2 separate regions of the Homo sapiens genome follow, and region 1 is linked to region 2. The links come from fine-mapping of genetic effects on gene expression. Tissue or cell type: skeletal muscle. Region 2 holds a variant in brackets; the other region holds the start of a gene. All regions are shown on one strand. Distances are from middle to middle.

Region 1 (8,186 bases), 57 kb before region 2:
ATAGTCTTTCAGAAATCGGTACTAAAGAGATAGTTAAGTCCGAATCCTATCTTTGGTTGAATTTCACAACCTGAAAGAACTTCACAAACTCTAAAACAACATAACAATGTGACCCAAATAAGTGTCAGAGTTGCTGGTGTGAAGAGTCAGTTTAAGGACTCCTGACACTGGGCCTGGGCTGCCTTCATCCTGTTACTTTGTCTATGGGACAGTTAATGTATTCTTCTGCTGTCATGTCACATGGCTTAGGTGGGGGAAGCTGGTATAGATGTGCCTTGAGTGGAAATATTTTTCTTATAGGGTAGATCTTATTTTAAGTATTTAGAGGCATTTGTTATTTAGCAGAGCTCTGCAGTCAAACTTTTACATAGCAAAGAAACACTCGAAACACTCTCTAAATTGTCTGCCAACTTAATTTATTTTCCACTATAGCAATATAAAACTGGATTGGGTTTTTTTATTACCAACAGACTTGGTTATCTCACTCATACAAGTAAGCTGAAGCTAAACAGACCGACTGTTCCTATTCTCCTCTGCCACTTATGATCTCAGGCAACTCTCTTACCTCTCTCATTTTTTATCTTTTTAAATAAAATTGGGTTTAGGACTATCTGCTTGTCTACACCCTCAGCAATGCTGGGGAGATCAAGTGGGAAAATGTATGTGAAAACAGTCTGTAATAATAACAATTATGACAACAGGAATAATAGCTAACACTCATTCAGCATTTATTATGTGTCAGGCACAGCTTTGCATAAATTAACTCATTTAATTCTTACAAAAATACTAAGATGCAGGTATTGTTATTATTCCCATTTTACAGACAGAAAACGAAGGCACAGAGGCTAAGTAACTCACACAAGTCACAAAGCTAGTAAGTAAAGAAGCTGGAATAAATGACCATGTGCTACCTATACCCTGAGGACAGTGATAATAAACCTTTTGCTTACAGAGACTACAAAAGATAAAATAAGTATCACAGGAAAATTAAATAATCATCATTTTATAGATGAGGCAATTGAGGTTCAGCAAGGTTTCACAGTTTGCCTAATTATATTTTCAGAGTATCTAAATTTAGAATATATTTAAACTATGTCTGAAGTGCTCTGTTTTCAAATTAAGGACAGTAGAGCAAATCTTTTGAAAACAGATTCAATGGTCAATTTTAAATTCTAGTGGCCTAACCAGCTATTATACTGGGAAATTATAGATTAAATATGCCTGGACATTCATAAGAATAAGGGCTTAAGAAATATTAGCTACTATCCCTATAAATGTCCCAATGCCTAGATCAGAGTCCCAAAGCACATCAAGAGTTCTAGACAAGATAGTACAGTTCTTTTTGAAAGGGTGAATGAGCAATTATAGTCTCTGGATTTGGAGAGTAATAAAAAAGTGGAGTCTCAAGTGTGAACTTTTTGTTTTCATTTTCCCTAAATGACCTATTTTTTTAAAAACTCTATAAATTCACATCCTAATCAAGATAAAATTTTCAGAAATAGATTTTAATTCATTCCTTTTCACTGAATGCACAGTGGTACTTAATAATACCAAAAATCCAGTTAGAAAGGAGAAGGTAAGTTTAACCCACCTACTAATGAAACAACACCTTTAAAAAGAAGGCATAATCCCTGTGGGCCAGCTGTGTGCCAGGCACTCACAGGCCAGCAAGTGCAAACAGCAAGGCTTGACTCTGAGTGAAACGGAACCGGGTCAAATCTGGCTCTTCCTCTACTAGCTGGGTGGCCTCAGGCAAAGTTACTTCATTTCTTTGACTCTATCAGGAGCCTCTGAACACACAGCTGACCTTCTAGCATGGAATCACTGGAATCCAGGCCAACTGCTGTCCCCTATGGGGTTTGGTGGGATTTATCATCTTGTTTCAAGGCCTACTTCACAAGACCCCAGAGATACTTTTTGGAGTCTTTCAAGATCAGACTGGCCAATCTACATGGCTATAAGAGACACATCATGGGAATTTAGTAGATTAAAAAGGGCCCTATTTGGCATTGAACCAAATGAGTATCAAGAGTCTAGCTGAGCCAAGATTCCCTTAATAACAAATGTATATGATATCCTATCAGAACAGTGCAGGTCTTCTCTATCTCATTGAACACCCACAACCTTCTCAAAGCTAGGCCCACTAACCTCCACTACCTGCTCTCTCCGGGGACACACCAGAGTTGAACACTAAGGACGGAGAGATGCATTCTTATCTGTGGACAGACAGGCTGTGATTTGAAAGTACTATAAGGTACACCTGGCTGACTGGAGTCTGGGTGGGCAGTTGAGGTTGTATTTCACATGAACTCATAACCCACATGGCTCCCTATGCAGCTTAAACCATGAAACATGGAGCACGTGCATGTTCCAACCATTTCCTACAGTGGCCTAGCTTTCACCCAATTCACTGTGCCTGCTGTCCAATCTATAATTCAGCTAACAGGGCCTTTGGGCTTAAGGCTGCTAAAGACAGGTTACCACTGAGCATTAGAGCTCTGGGAAAAACAAGCTCCTCTACTGAGATGTTGAATGTAACACCACCGCAGTATCTGTAGAATGAACTTCCCAAGACTTCAGATTTCTTATTTATACAGACTTCTGTGACTACAGCCTCCACTGCAACTTCAGTCTACAAAACATGGCTAACGAAGTGCTTTCGAGCTTGGGAGTTAAATTGCTCCTGAGAGTATGTCAGGAGCAAAGCTGAAAATGGTGATAACTTGGGGACAAAATATATATGTAATATTGGGATCACAATTTATTAGGAATTAATAAGCACTTGTATATCATATCCTTCTTGCCTAGCATTTATATAGGCTTAAAAAAATGGTAGCTAGTGTGATAATAATCCTTGCAGATCTCCTAGAGAACAGGCATGATCACCTTCAGCTAGCACTGTTGGTTGCTCACCTGTCATCTATTGGGAGAAAGCATTCTCCCTGTTTACAAGTAAGGAAACCAAAACAAGGAGGTTAGAGAACTTACCTAAGATTGCCTACTACATGCAGAGTAAAGTAAGGATCCAGATGGAGGCAGTTCAACTCTGGAATTTGGGCTATTAATCACTGTACCCTTCCATCTCTTCTGTTTATGTGAGGAGACTGAAATCTACAGACATAGAACTTCTCTGCTGTCATGCTGTTACCTGGATTGTACACAGAAGTCCAAATTACAGCTACATCCCCGTTTAAACAGTAAGCCGTTTCTAAATCTGAATCCTGAGGACTTTCGAGCAGCCAGAAGGGTTTTCAGACATTATGACATGCAGCAAGAAAGTACACAGAGAGAATTTTTTTAGATGAAAAGCCCCATCCAACAGTGGCTGATAACATTTTCTGTTCTCTGATAACCCCCTTGCTACTAGAGCAGCTGAAGATGACTCCAAATGCATGAATCTGTTCATCTGTTCACATGCTAAAAGAAAAAGGCCTGGCAGTTCATGATTAAAGAGGCACGAAAGTCCCCAGATCACAAATGCCCTTTCAAAAATTTTCCACATTTGTTCTAGTTTCAAGCCATGATAAAGAGTTTCCAATCAAATGCATCAGCTAAAATGAATCCATTTTCTGAAACAGAAGTGGCTAGTTTGGGTCCAGCACTTATAACGAAAGGTTCCTGGTGTCACAGACCATGAAATAAGACTGTTTGAAGTTGTTCCCATGGAGAATCCCAGAGGACTTTAAAACTTCTGAGCAGGAAGATCCTTGACCCTTGCCCAACTCCTTTCCACTTAACAGCGATGCAACTGAGCTGAAGAGACTTGTCCAAAGCCACTGAGCAGGTTAGTTAGTGGCAGGGCTAAAATCTGTAATGAGGGGTTGGTCATGCGCAGGTTGCAAACAGCCTTGTCCAAGGATTCACACTTGGAGTAGATACATTGCACCCTCACTTTTGACTAGGCCTAACTTCTGGTACAAACCTGTGGAGTCAAAATCTGATTTTAAATATTGTAAAAAACAAAAACAAACAACCTCTCATTTTTCAGATCTCTCAATGAAAACTTTAGGGCCAAATCAAGAAATCATAAGGCTATCATAGGCCCTTACATAAAAATGGCCTTAAAATATACACACAACCTCCTTTTCATAGAAGACAGAGAGCCAGAGAGATAGAAATACAGAAAGAGAGGGAGAAAGAATACTTTGCCCCTGACATATACACACAAAAGTACTTGGCTTACTGTAAGCAAAAAGCAAAAAAAAAAAAAAAAAAAAACAAAACAAAAACCCTCAAACTCCTTTGTCTTAAGGGCAGAGAGAAAGGTGACAAAATTTGAAATAAAGTGAGCCACTGAAGACAGGAATGGGCAAACTCCAGCTAGCCTGGAACTATCCCGGTTTCCTCTGTGAACCAGCCTAGGGGCTTCCCCTCGGTCCGCCCCTGCACGGAAGGACGTGCGTGACACTGGGCTGCGTCATTGGCAGAACTGCCCGCGCCCAGAAAACGAGCTGGAGTGGAGAACAGAATGCAATTGCAGACAATCTTCCTCTGGTTCCCTGGGGAGGCCTGCTCTGGGCAGAGAGATCCCAGGGGACTGTGCGGGAAGGAGCTAAAGCAATAGCCCAAAAGCGCCAGGGAATGCACTTGAAGTTTCAGACGTTTTTCTTTTCTTTGAAACTAAGTTTCCAGCCCACCAGGAAAAACTGCCTCGCGACCTAGTGATTTTAATCTCACGCTTGGCCGCAAGCCGCTGCCTCGAGACTGGAAACCGGCCGCGAGGCGCTCTATCCCCCTGACCCCCTCCCCCCGCGCTCACCTGCGATATCCCAGAGCTGCAGGCGCACCACAGTCTCCGGGTCCCAGTGGAGCACCTTGAGCGCGAAGTCCACGCCGATTGTGGCCCGGTAGTGCGAAGAGAAGTTCTGGTGCACGTAGCGCTTGATGATACTGGTCTTCCCCACGCCCAGGTCGCCAATCACCAGCAACTTGTACAGGTGCTCCTTGTGCGGGGCCTGCATCCTGGCGGCCGGCCAGACGTGCCGTGCCTGACCAGGGAAGCGCAGCCTGGGCTCTGCGCACGAGAGAGACTTGGGGAGCGCAAGTGTAGGTGCAGAGAGAGGCGTGGGCGGCGGGGCGGGGGCTGGGGGGCGGAACTCCTCCCCTAGGGGTTAATCCTCCTTCCTACTCCGCGGTCTTGGAGAGGGGAGGAGACAGGAGCGAGTCCCGGGACTGGCAGCTGAAAGGGGTTCGCGTGTGGTTGCCTGTTGCAGCGCTTATTTATCCGGCGCTTTAGAGTTTCCGAAGAGCTGTTTTCACCTGTGACCCTGGCCACAAACTTGTGAGGTGTGGATCTTATTTTCCACGTTTTGCTTGCGAGAAAACTGATTGTGAAAAAGTACTCTGCGGGAGATGGCCGGTGAAAGGCCCCGTTGACCACAGGTCTGAAGTCACAGGCTCTTAACTACCCCACACTGTAGAGAGAAATTACAGTATTAGGAAGCCCAAGACTGGCTGGGCTTGGTTCCTGCGTGCCCTGGTTTTTAAGTTGAGGGACCATAAGTAAGTCATTTGAGCTCTCACAGCCTGTTATTTCTCAATGAATGGCAATGCTGACCTCTGAGCAGCTTGGAGGTGGGAACACTGAGCACTTTCACACCCATTCAACTGGTAATCAGTTAACAAGGAGGACAACTGGGCCGAAAATGCCAAGGGCACTGGTGACTTTTAGCCTCTTCCCATATCCTAAAAACTCAGAGCTGCACAGAAAGACAGTTTTAACAATCGGTCAGATTATTACAAATAATAATAATGGCAAACATTTATTGAGCACTCGCTATATGCCAGAGGGTTTATAAATTATGTCATTTAGTCATCCCAGCTGTCTTAATAATAGATACCATTTTTCTTCCTATTTTACAAATGAGGAAGCTAAGGACCAGACATTTTAAGTAATGGACCCAGAGTCAAATAGTAAGGAAAAAAACCAAATTCAAACATAGGTCTTTAGGTTCCCAACTTCTTTTTGTTGTTTTTGTTGTTTGTTTTCATTCATTTGACCAATATACATTTTATTACCAATTAATATATGACAAATTGTACTTATTTTGTCTTGTCTGTCTCCACCTACAAGAAGGTAAATTTTTTTGAGGCCAGTAGGCATTGTCTGCGTTAGGATTTCTGTATCATCCTCCTAACGCAGACAATGCCTACTGGCCTAAGAAAAATTTACCTTCTTGTGGGTGGAGACAGGACAAGACAAAATAAATACAATTTGTCATATATTAATTGGTAATAAAATAAGGCAGAAAGGGGATGTGAAGAGATTATATGGGGTTTGCCTTTTAGATAGGGTGGCCAGGGAAGGTTTCAGTAAGATGGAGACAATTTAGTAAAGACATAAAGAAAATGAGAAATTGGGCATTCAGGGCTAGGGGGTGAGCAGTTTATACCAAAATGAGCTATTTTGTACCTGAATGTGCTGTGAAGGAGCTCTGCTCACATTCTATCATTTCATCTTCTCAATTGCTTTATGAAGTGGGTTATTTTCTTCAATTTATAAATAAGGAAACCAAGATTAACAGCAGCTTTCTCAAGGGCACACATAACTAGTATGTGTTAGAACTAGGACTTAAACACAGGCCTGTGTGAAAGGGAGAAAGGAGGTTTGGCAAGGCCATTGTCTTTCTGCCTTCCTCTTCTGGCCTGACACTCCCTAAACTTTAGCCTCCACATGCCCCAAACAAGCAGAGGGATGCTGAAGATGTGTACCCGGGACAAGTCACATAACCTCTGAGCCTTGGTTTCCACATCAACGAAAGGAGAATGATAATACCTATGGCAGGGCATGGTTGCTCATGATTGTAATCCAAGCACTTTGGGAGGCTGAGGTGGGTGAATCACTTGAGGTCAGGAGTTCAAGACCAGCCTGGCCAACATGGTGAAACCCGTCTCTACTAAAAATACAAAAATTAGCCGGGCGTGGTGGCAGGTGACTATAATCCCAGCTACTTGAGAGGCTGAGACAGGAGACTATCTTGAACCAGGGATGCAGAGGTTGCAGTGAGCCAAGATCACACCATTGCTCTCCAGCCTGGGTAACCTGAGCAAGACTCTATCTCTAAATAAATAAATAAATAAATAAATAAATAAATACAAATGAAATTGTTGATAAAATGCTGGGTCCATAGTAGGTGGTAAATAAATTGTAGCTATTACTATGAAATGAGGGACAAGCTTAAAATACTGTCCACAGGCACTGTCCTGTGCAGTTTCATCTTTCCTCAGAGAGTAACTCAGAAGTTTTGCTCAGAATGGACACTAAGTGACAGTGTGTAGAATTGCAGTCGTTTGTGTTTTATTGAAGTGCTTAGCTGGGTAGGCCTCATTTACTGGTTTCCACCCATGCGAGGACACACCAAGAAGATCACATCTAACAAGTGAGACAAATACTCTACCTGCTTAAAGAATTAGCCAACAATGTCACCTCACTTCCCAGGGAGGGGAATTCAGTAGCCCAAGATGCTTAAGCCATTCTAAATGCCTGCAAAATTAGGGAGGATGACAAAATGAGACCTTTGCCAGCTCTAAAATCCTGGGTCTGTAAATCTGAGAGACAGGCTTTGTCTGGCCAACAAGCTCCTGGGGTAGAAACAAGGTAGGAGTTTGAGACATCTTGTGGGCCAGCCTTCAAAATTATACCCAACCCAACTTTCTTACCAGCCCCGTACTGTTTTCCCAAGCCTGGTCCCGGCAGAGTCATCCTCACCCTTATCTGTTCTCTTTTGAGCAAGAGCATATTGGAACATCAGACATTTGGATTTATGAGGTAGGACAGGCAGGGCAAAGTTCAGGATTTCTGGTCCTGAAGCTGATAAAATTGGAGGAAGTAGCTTTTTGAGCAAAAGAATGCAAAATCAAAAATATATAATTAGGTCTAGGGCCTTGGAAGGGGTCCTGAAGCTTCAGTTTTATTGCCTCTCTGGGGGTAGGAGATTCCTCTCTCAGGGACAGCAGCCAACCATGGTGAGCAAGTTCCTTGGCCAGGCAGGAAGTATGTGCAGTTTTGTTTCCAGCCGTACTCATTTAGGTCTCATGATCATTCTTCACAGTGGGAAGAAATTACTCTCGGTTTATATTTTTAAGACTTTTAGATTACAGTAGCTTGGTAAGCACCCCAGCCTAGCAGTTCAGTAAAATCTTCGTAAAAGGCGCCTAGGTCTCTGAACCTGAAAGTCCCTTGGGTA
Region 2 (8,186 bases):
CAATTTAAGTTATTAACTTGTGATCTTTCTACTTTTTTGATGTAGGCTTTTAATGCTATAAACTTTCCTCTTAGCACTGCTTTTGCTGTATCCCACAGGTTTTGGTATGTTGTGTTTCCATTTTCATTTACTTCAAAAAATTTTTAAATTTCCAACTATACCTCTTCATTGACACAGTGATCATTCAGGCATGCCGTTTAATTTCCATGTACGTGTATATTTACCAGACTGCGTTGGCATTGATTTCTGACTTTATTCCAGTGTAATCTGAGTAAGTACTTGATATGATTTTGATTTTTTACAATCTGTTAATACTTATTTTTGGCCTAATATTTGGTCTATCTTAGAGAATATTCCATGCGATTGTGAAAATAATGCATATTCTCTATTTATTAGGTAGAATGTTTTATAAATGTCTATTAAGTCAATTTGTTCTGAAGTCCAATTTAAGGCCAATGTTTCTTTGTTAAGTTTCTACCTCAATGATCTGTCTAGTGCTGTTAGTGGGATATTAAAACTCTCTACTGTTATTGCATTGCTGTCTGTCTCTTTCTTTTGGTCTAGTAATATTTGTTTGGTAAATATAGGTGCTCCAATGTTGTATGCATATATACTTAGGATCGTTATATCCTCTTGCTGAATTGATCCCTTTATCATTACATAATGGCCTCCTTCATCTTCTTTCTTTACTGTTTTTGATTTAAAGTCTGCTTTATCTGATATAAGCATAGCTACTCCTACTCACTTTTGGTTGGTTTGTGTAGAATATCTTTTTTCACCCCTTTACTTTCCGTCTAATTCAGTAAGGTGAATTTCTTGTACCATATAGTTTTCATCCCTTTACTTTCAGTCTAATTCAGCAAGGTGAATTTCTTGTACCATATAGTTGGATTGTGGGCTTTTTGTCTATTCTGCCAATCTTTATCTTTTAAGTGCAGCATTTTATTCATTTACATTCAAGGTTAATATTGATATGTGAGGCTTTGTTTCTGGCTTATTATTGATTGATTTCAAGTTGTTTTAAACAATTCTTTTTTTTTCTTTTTGTCTTTGTGGTTTAATGAAATTCTGTGGTATCTTTGACATCTTTCTATTCCTCTTTTGTGTGATTGTTTTATACAAACTGTAAGTTGTATATTGCCATGTGTTTTCATGGTGGTGAATATTAACCTTTCATTTCTTGCTTAAGGACTCTTTGAGCATTTACTATAGGTCTAGTCTAGAGTCTAGTAGTGGCAAGTTTTCTCAGTTCTTTCTTGTCTGAGAATGACTTAAATTATCCTTCATTTATAAAGCTTATTCTGGCAGGATACAAAATCATTGGCTGGAAGTTTTTCTTTCAGTATTTTGAAAGTGCCATCTCATTCTCTTCTGGCCTGTAATACTTTTGCTGAAGAGTCCACAGTTAGTTTGATGGGATTTCCTTTATAGTTGACTTGATATTTTTCTCTTGCTAATTTTAAAACTCTTTATTTCACTTGGACTTTAGACATTCTGAGTATAATATGCCATGGTGAGGTCCTTTGTGCAATGTATTTTCCTTGGGGTTGCTGTGTCCCCTGTATCTAGATGCCTAACTTTCTTGATAGATGAGAAATTTTCATTATTTTCTTAAATATGTTTTCTAAACTTTTTGATCCCTCTTCACTTTTGGCAATACCAATAATTAGTAAATTTGGTCACTTTATCTGGTCCCAGATGTCTGAAAGCTTTGTTCATTCATTTTTTATTCTGTTTCTCTTATTTTTGTCTGACAGGATTATTTTGAAAGTCTTGTCTTCAAGTTCTGAGATGCTTCTTCTTGGTCTAGTCTATTATTGAAACTTTTGGATATATTTTTTATTTCTTTCAATGAATTTTTTAATTCCAGAATTTCTATTCTATTTGTTTTTATGATGTTCATCTCCTTGGTAAATTTCTCATTAATATCCTGGATTGATTTTCTGATTTCTTTGTATTGATTTTCAGGTTTATCTTGCATCTCATTGAGATTCTTTAAGATCAGTATTTTGAATTCTTTATCTGAACTTTTAAAGAGGAATTATTTTTGATTGGGATCTGTTATTGGATAATTTTGGTCCTTTGATGGTATCATATTTCCCTGATTTTTCATGTTTCCTGTGTCCCTCCATTGATTTTGGTGCATCTTGTATAGCAGTCACTTTTTCCAAGTTTTTGAAATTGCTTTCATAGGGGAGAATTTTTTCCTGAGGATGTGTATATGTTGTTGATTCAGTTAAGATACTGTGGCTTTGATTTTGGGTGCTCATGGTAGTGTGATCTTTGTATGAATATTTTGGCAGTACACAGGGCAGTGGTCTCTGTGATTTCCTCAGTGACTAAGGGTACAGCTAATAGTTGAGTTTGTGGTGGAATTAAGCTAGTGACCTGGACACCAACTAAATCAGTCTTCAGGCTCTGGTGGTAGTAGCAGTGGGGTCCTTTCAGGCCCCAGAGCAACTTACACTGGCTCTAGTGTTTGTGAGTCTGGGAGGACTGATTCTTGAGCCTTCACGTGGCTTGCTTAGAAATTAATAGTAAGAGCAGTGGTCCCAGTGTGTGGGTGGGTTCTTAGGACCCTTGGTAGCTAATGTGGTATGGGTGATGGTAGTAGCAATGGTGGTGCAACCCACTGGGACCCAAGCAACGCATGTTGTTGTTGCTGGAAGCTGTGATGGGTTGGGTGGGCTAGTCTCCAGTCCCACAGCCACCTGTAGCAGGGCAGTAAGCATTGTCCTAACTGTGCTTAGGAGAGCTTTGTCTCACTTATCCCTTTCCCAGCTGGGTGGCAGCTGCAACTATGTCACCTCAAACTTGGCCCAAGGTTGGGGCACAGCCCAGTATTAAGTTCTCAGAATGGCACTCTGGGCCTGTGACCAGGGAGTGTAAGGTCCCTTCAGGCAAGAAGCATGGGCAAGAAGCTATGGGAAAAGCAGTTTACTTGAGTCTTGGTCTTACAGCAGCCCGTAGTAGGGTACTGGGTATTGACCTAGATGTGCATTGGGAAGCCTGGCTTTCCTATACCTCTTTAACTGGGCATTAGCTGAAGCCATGTCAAGTCAAACTCATCTCAAGGGCAGGGGACAACCAAGCATTAAACTCTCAAAATGGCACCTTGAGTCTATAGTCAGGGAGGGTGGGTCTCCTCCCATGCAGGCAGTGTGGGCATGAAGCTGTGGAGAATACAGTCCACTTGTGTCTCAATCTCACAGCAGCCTGTTGCAGGGAAGTAAATATTGTCTTAGATATACATAGGATACCTTTGTCTTCTTGTTCCTCCTTGGCCAGATGGCAGCTACAACCACATCAGCCTGAACTCAGGCCTAAGGTGACATATGGCTCAGCCTTAAACTCTCAAAATGGCACTCACCCTGGGCCTGGGACCCAGGGTGGGCAGAGTACCTTCCAGTCTAGCAGTATGGGCAAGAAGCTATGGGGAATATGGTCCACTTACATCTCAGTCTCACAGCAGCCCACAGCAGGGCAGCAAGCACCCTCCTAGGGGTGCATGGGAGTGCCCAGCCTCTTCTTTCTCTTGTTGGAGCAGTGCAGTAGCCCCAGCCATGTTTGTAGATCTCCAGTATCTAGGCTCTCAAGATAGCTCCCAGCTGAGGCTGCTCCAAGCTCAGGTGCCTGTGAAATTTTGCATGGGTTCTCTTTCTGGAGAAACATCTCTTTGCAATCTTTAGCCAGCTCTGTATGTCAAGCCCAAGGCCCTAACGAGTTAAGGGTTTCTTTGGTGGCCATGATAGTAAAAGCTGATTTTGGAACCCCGGGGGTTTCTCTTTTACTATTTCCCCATGTCCAGGAGGCTCTCCTAACTTTTAGCTGGTTCCTGGCTGGGCAAGCTGTCTTGCTCTCTCTTTACCTATTTCGGGTGCTTCTTGTCACTGCTCTGGGGAATCCTAGCATTGTGCCCTATATGATCTGTTTAAAATGTGAGTATCTGCCAACTATTCTGATATCTACTTACTATCCTGGTTCCTCTCCTAGGAGGAGGCACATATTACCTATGTCTAGCTGGCCATCTTTATATGATGCACAGTGAGTTTCATGGATATGCACCCAGAGCAGGTCCCCATCTACCAGCCAGTTGTCACTATTTTTAACTGTCACTTTAATTTCCCTAGAATCTAATAATGCTGCCCTCACTTTTATTCCTGTGTTTTGTGCTAACATTTAATCTTCATAACCACCTTATATAATAGGTATTATTTTCCATTTTTATAGAAAAGCAAACAAATCACAAAGAGCTAAGAAGCTGCCCAAGTTTACTTGGATATTGAGCACAAAGTCAGGACTCAGAGCAAGGTCTGTAGCCTCAAAAGCCTCTATTCTATACAACCATGCCATACTCACTTAGAAC[C/T]GTAATATGGAGCAAAGCCACTAGGTGGAACCCCATAAAATCTGCGCTTGCCACAGGCCCAACATTAATCACTTTAGTCCATCGGATGCTGATGCTGGAAAGGATGAAGCAAATCAGTGATCCTACCCCTTCATTCTCACAGAGGAGAAATCTGAGAACTAGCTAAGGAAGAGAATTGCCTAGGTCACACATTGATTTAGTAACATGCCCCAAATCAGCACCCAGAGTGTGTATTGCCGTAGGTCTTTGCATTTGCCACAGTTATTGTTTTTCTTCCATGGTTATAAACAGAAAAGATGTACAGCTTACATAAAATCAGGAGAAATATCTGATCCATCTTTTCTATGGCAAGACAAAGCAGGGTTGGAAAACGTTAATTAGCTTGTGAACACACACTCTCAGCCAGAGGAAGTGTGCTTCATAGTCAAGGCTCACAACAGTGTGCATTAGAATAAAAGTATCTATGTTTCCTCTTCTAGATCATCAAAGGGTTTTTACATCACTTGCCTACTGCAACTAAATGCCAGGGCTTGGGCATACTGAGGGGAAAAGGCTGTCTAGTTTTTCTGCTCACAAATGTTGTGGTCGGAGGCAAGTTTTCTGCTCACTGCTTCCACGGAGTAAAATGGTACCATCTGCTGTGCCTAATGGGCACAATCAGAGTGCGGAGTTATGGGGTCTTGAGATGAGATGATTGTAAGAAAAAAACTGATTATGACAGACGATCATTGATAGCTTTGCTGTCCCTTCAGTTCTATCATAACCCCTTTTACACAATGACAACCTGCTACCATGCCACTGTCCTAGAAGGGAATCTCACAATTGCATGCAGCAATCTCAAAAATAGAAATGATACAACAAATAAGGATGGTTATATTGTTGAAAATAACGCTGTTCAAAAATTGTTTAAAACAGTTAGCTTTTTCTATGCTATCTCATTCCTCCCAGCTAGATTTACCTTTAAAAGAACACTAAATGAGACTTTATCCTCACAGCTGAAAAAATCTGGTCTTCTGATAGAAAGCTTTTGTGTCAGTTAATATATTTATACAAAAGGTAGAGTAGCTAGAAATAGAGGTGCTCCATATATAAAGATTAATTAAACTTCTAGAATTTTCATTGCTAAATTTGTAAATTCAAAATAAAAACATAAATCACTTTTATAAAAAAAAGGGAAAGAAATGTCTTACAACCTTTACAGAAAAGGATATAAGAATTAACTTACTATTTATTGCAACCAAATCTGTGAGTTGGGTAATATTATTCCAATGTTTCAGAAAAAAAAGTTAAGAACAACAAAAAATAAATTGTACAACGGGTAAATGTCAGAGCTGGAATTCTGTATTTGATCTTTTTTGGCTCCAAAGCCTGTCATTCGAACCACTACACACTTAGGGTCACTATTAGGCCCTGTATTCTACCTCTTTTTCATTTTTAAAGAAATAACTGGCAAAAATTTCTCATAGTGGCGTATTATATAGAATTGTTTTCTTTTACCTTTAATTTTCTAACAACAGACATAAAAACAAAACAGGAGAAAAATACACAATATTGTTGCTAAAACAGTGAATGCTGTAGAACAAAATGATAGGTGATATGTGTGTGTATATATCCTTCTTTCTCTTCTTTTCCATATGTAGTTACATTATTTTAAAACTTAAAGAAGAGTATTAAGGAGACGGGACAGAAGTTAATATAAAAATACTTAAGAATTCTGAAAAAGCCGGCAACTTTTCTTTCTACCTTGTGATAAGTCTGAGATGACACCCTTTGACACCGTTTTCCTCCTCCCTATCCATTCTCAGTATCTAGAGCCCTGACATCACACACACACACACACACACACACACACACACACACACACACAATATTGCCACATTTCCTACTTTCTCTTTGATAATACCCATTCAAACTGAGCTTTGCACCTCTAGAATTGGTTCTCCTGGTTCCTGGAGTCCCTCCTGCTGTGAGATTTGCTCTGACTCTGGACTATCCCTGCCTGCTTACTACCTACCCTCCTTTTCTTACACTTTTCTCACCAATAATTAAGGAACACATGCATTTTTCTAAACAAACCAAAATATGCTGTAGCTCTGTGCCTTAGTACAAGCTTCCCCTCAGAAAAATCCTTTCCACTTAGTTACCTCAAACTACTTACCTTTTAGGTATGTCCTCCATCCTGGGGCCTTCCCTACATTACACTCTCACTCCCCAGTGGTTGCTTGTTCCATCCTTAAGTCTGTGTACTCTTTTCCTGCCCCTCCTTTAGATTTGCCATTTTATAATACAAATATTTGTTCATATTTATCTATTCCTTTGGTCTATGAGATCCTTAAAAGCAGAGATCTGGTCTTGTTTGACTTTATAACTTCATATCCTAGCATAGTACCTTCATAAAGTAGCTATTCAATAGTAGTAATAATAATGTCAATGATGATGATGACAACGACGATGAAGAATGGATGGATGGATGGATGGATAGATTAATGGATCAACAATGAAACAGATCAATAAATGAAACGATATACATAAGCAGTAGGTGAGATGTTTGAAATTCCACCAACAAAAAACCGACTATGAGGCCTGGTATAGTTTGTGTGCAAATCCTCTGTCTTGTCTTCTTGGCTGTGAAATCTGTCTGGGGTGGCTACTCCAACAGTGTCTCCAGCCCTGCTTTCTACTAAAGTACAAGCCTGTTAGAAGTTGCTCCATGCATAGAAAGACCTCACAATGTCGGATCCTGGATTCTGCTTCTCAATCTGCCTTAAATTAGGCTGTAACCTTGGCCAAGTTGCTGTAATTTTCCTAAGAAAATTCTGTTTCTTCATCTAAAATGGGAATAGTAACCCATGCCCACATTTCCACCCCATGTGAGGTATTATGAAGGTGTGATACATGACAGGCTTGCAAACAATAAAGTGTGATGCAAATTTAAGGGCTATTACTAAATGTCGTTTCTCTTCTTATGTATACGGTCCTGAATTTACTCTCAGGTGAATTTTTTTTTTTCATGTCAGCTATAACATACTGATTTCTAACTCCTGGTAATTCCATAGGATTTGCTGGTGAGGAGGCAGAGTATACTGTGCTAAGAACGTGGACATTTGATTTAGATTTTCATATAAATCTTAGCTTCATTATTTATTAGCTACACGATTTTGAAAGTTTATACAACATTTTTGCTCCTTAATTTCCTCATCTCCAAAACAGGAATATTAATGCATTTCTTACTGGTTCAACATAAAAACTAAATATGATAATCTAATGTTACAGTATATATAAGCTCCTTGTACATACATAGTAGGTACTTTGTAGAGTGGAGTACTGAATAGAGAGGAGATGTCTAAGGACTGCACAAACTCAAATTCTGATGGTAAAGACTGTTTCCAGTTGACTGAGGTTAAAAATAATATAAAATGACAAACTTTAACTCTTCCCAGAAAATTAACTAGAATTAACTTAAGAAATCCAGGAAGAGTCAGTCCTATTCTTGAAATTTGAGATCAGCCATTGCTTCCAAATATTCATGTATCACAGCCATAATCTTTGTTAATATTAAGTATTATCCAGACTATTACTTTTTTAAATGATTAAAGTTAGATGTTGTTTAGCAATATCCTCCATAAAATCACAGGTCTGATATGCTGGTTAAATTTATTCTGATATATATGAGAATAAATATTTTGCCTAAAACACATAATAATACAGAACCACCACCAAAAGTAAGAAAATAGAAAAAAAGTTGTATGCTACCTAAATGGTTTAGAGAATTCTTCATTGCAAGCTTCTTTCTACAAATGTTTATGCCCTTAAATCTTGC

Direction of the effects. Alleles are on the strand shown, and positions count from the first base shown. SD is a standard deviation of normalised expression in the study named.
In carriers of allele T in region 2, the expression in skeletal muscle of the gene that starts at base 5,020 in region 1 tends to be lower than with C alone (moderate effect, 0.68 SD a copy in FUSION).

What was found. PIP is the estimated chance that this variant, and not a neighbour inherited with it, causes the effect.
Region 1: it holds the start of RAB38, and the variant in region 2 is fine-mapped to the expression of RAB38 in skeletal muscle (FUSION, PIP 0.95).

The regions. Positions count from the first base shown.
Region 1 is chr11:88,170,424-88,178,609 of GRCh38, forward strand. It overlaps RAB38 (RAB38, member RAS oncogene family), which reads right to left and starts at 5,020. Exons shown (of 3, transcript NM_022337.3): 1 at 4,760-5,020. The coding sequence starts at 4,961. It overlaps MIR3166 (microRNA 3166), which reads left to right and starts at 6,079; the gene lies at 6,079-6,170.
Region 2 is chr11:88,227,687-88,235,872 of GRCh38, forward strand. No RefSeq gene overlaps it. Among named protein-coding and RNA genes, the nearest start is that of MIR3166, 55 kb to the left of the region's middle. The variant C/T (reference allele first, on the strand shown) is at 4,367.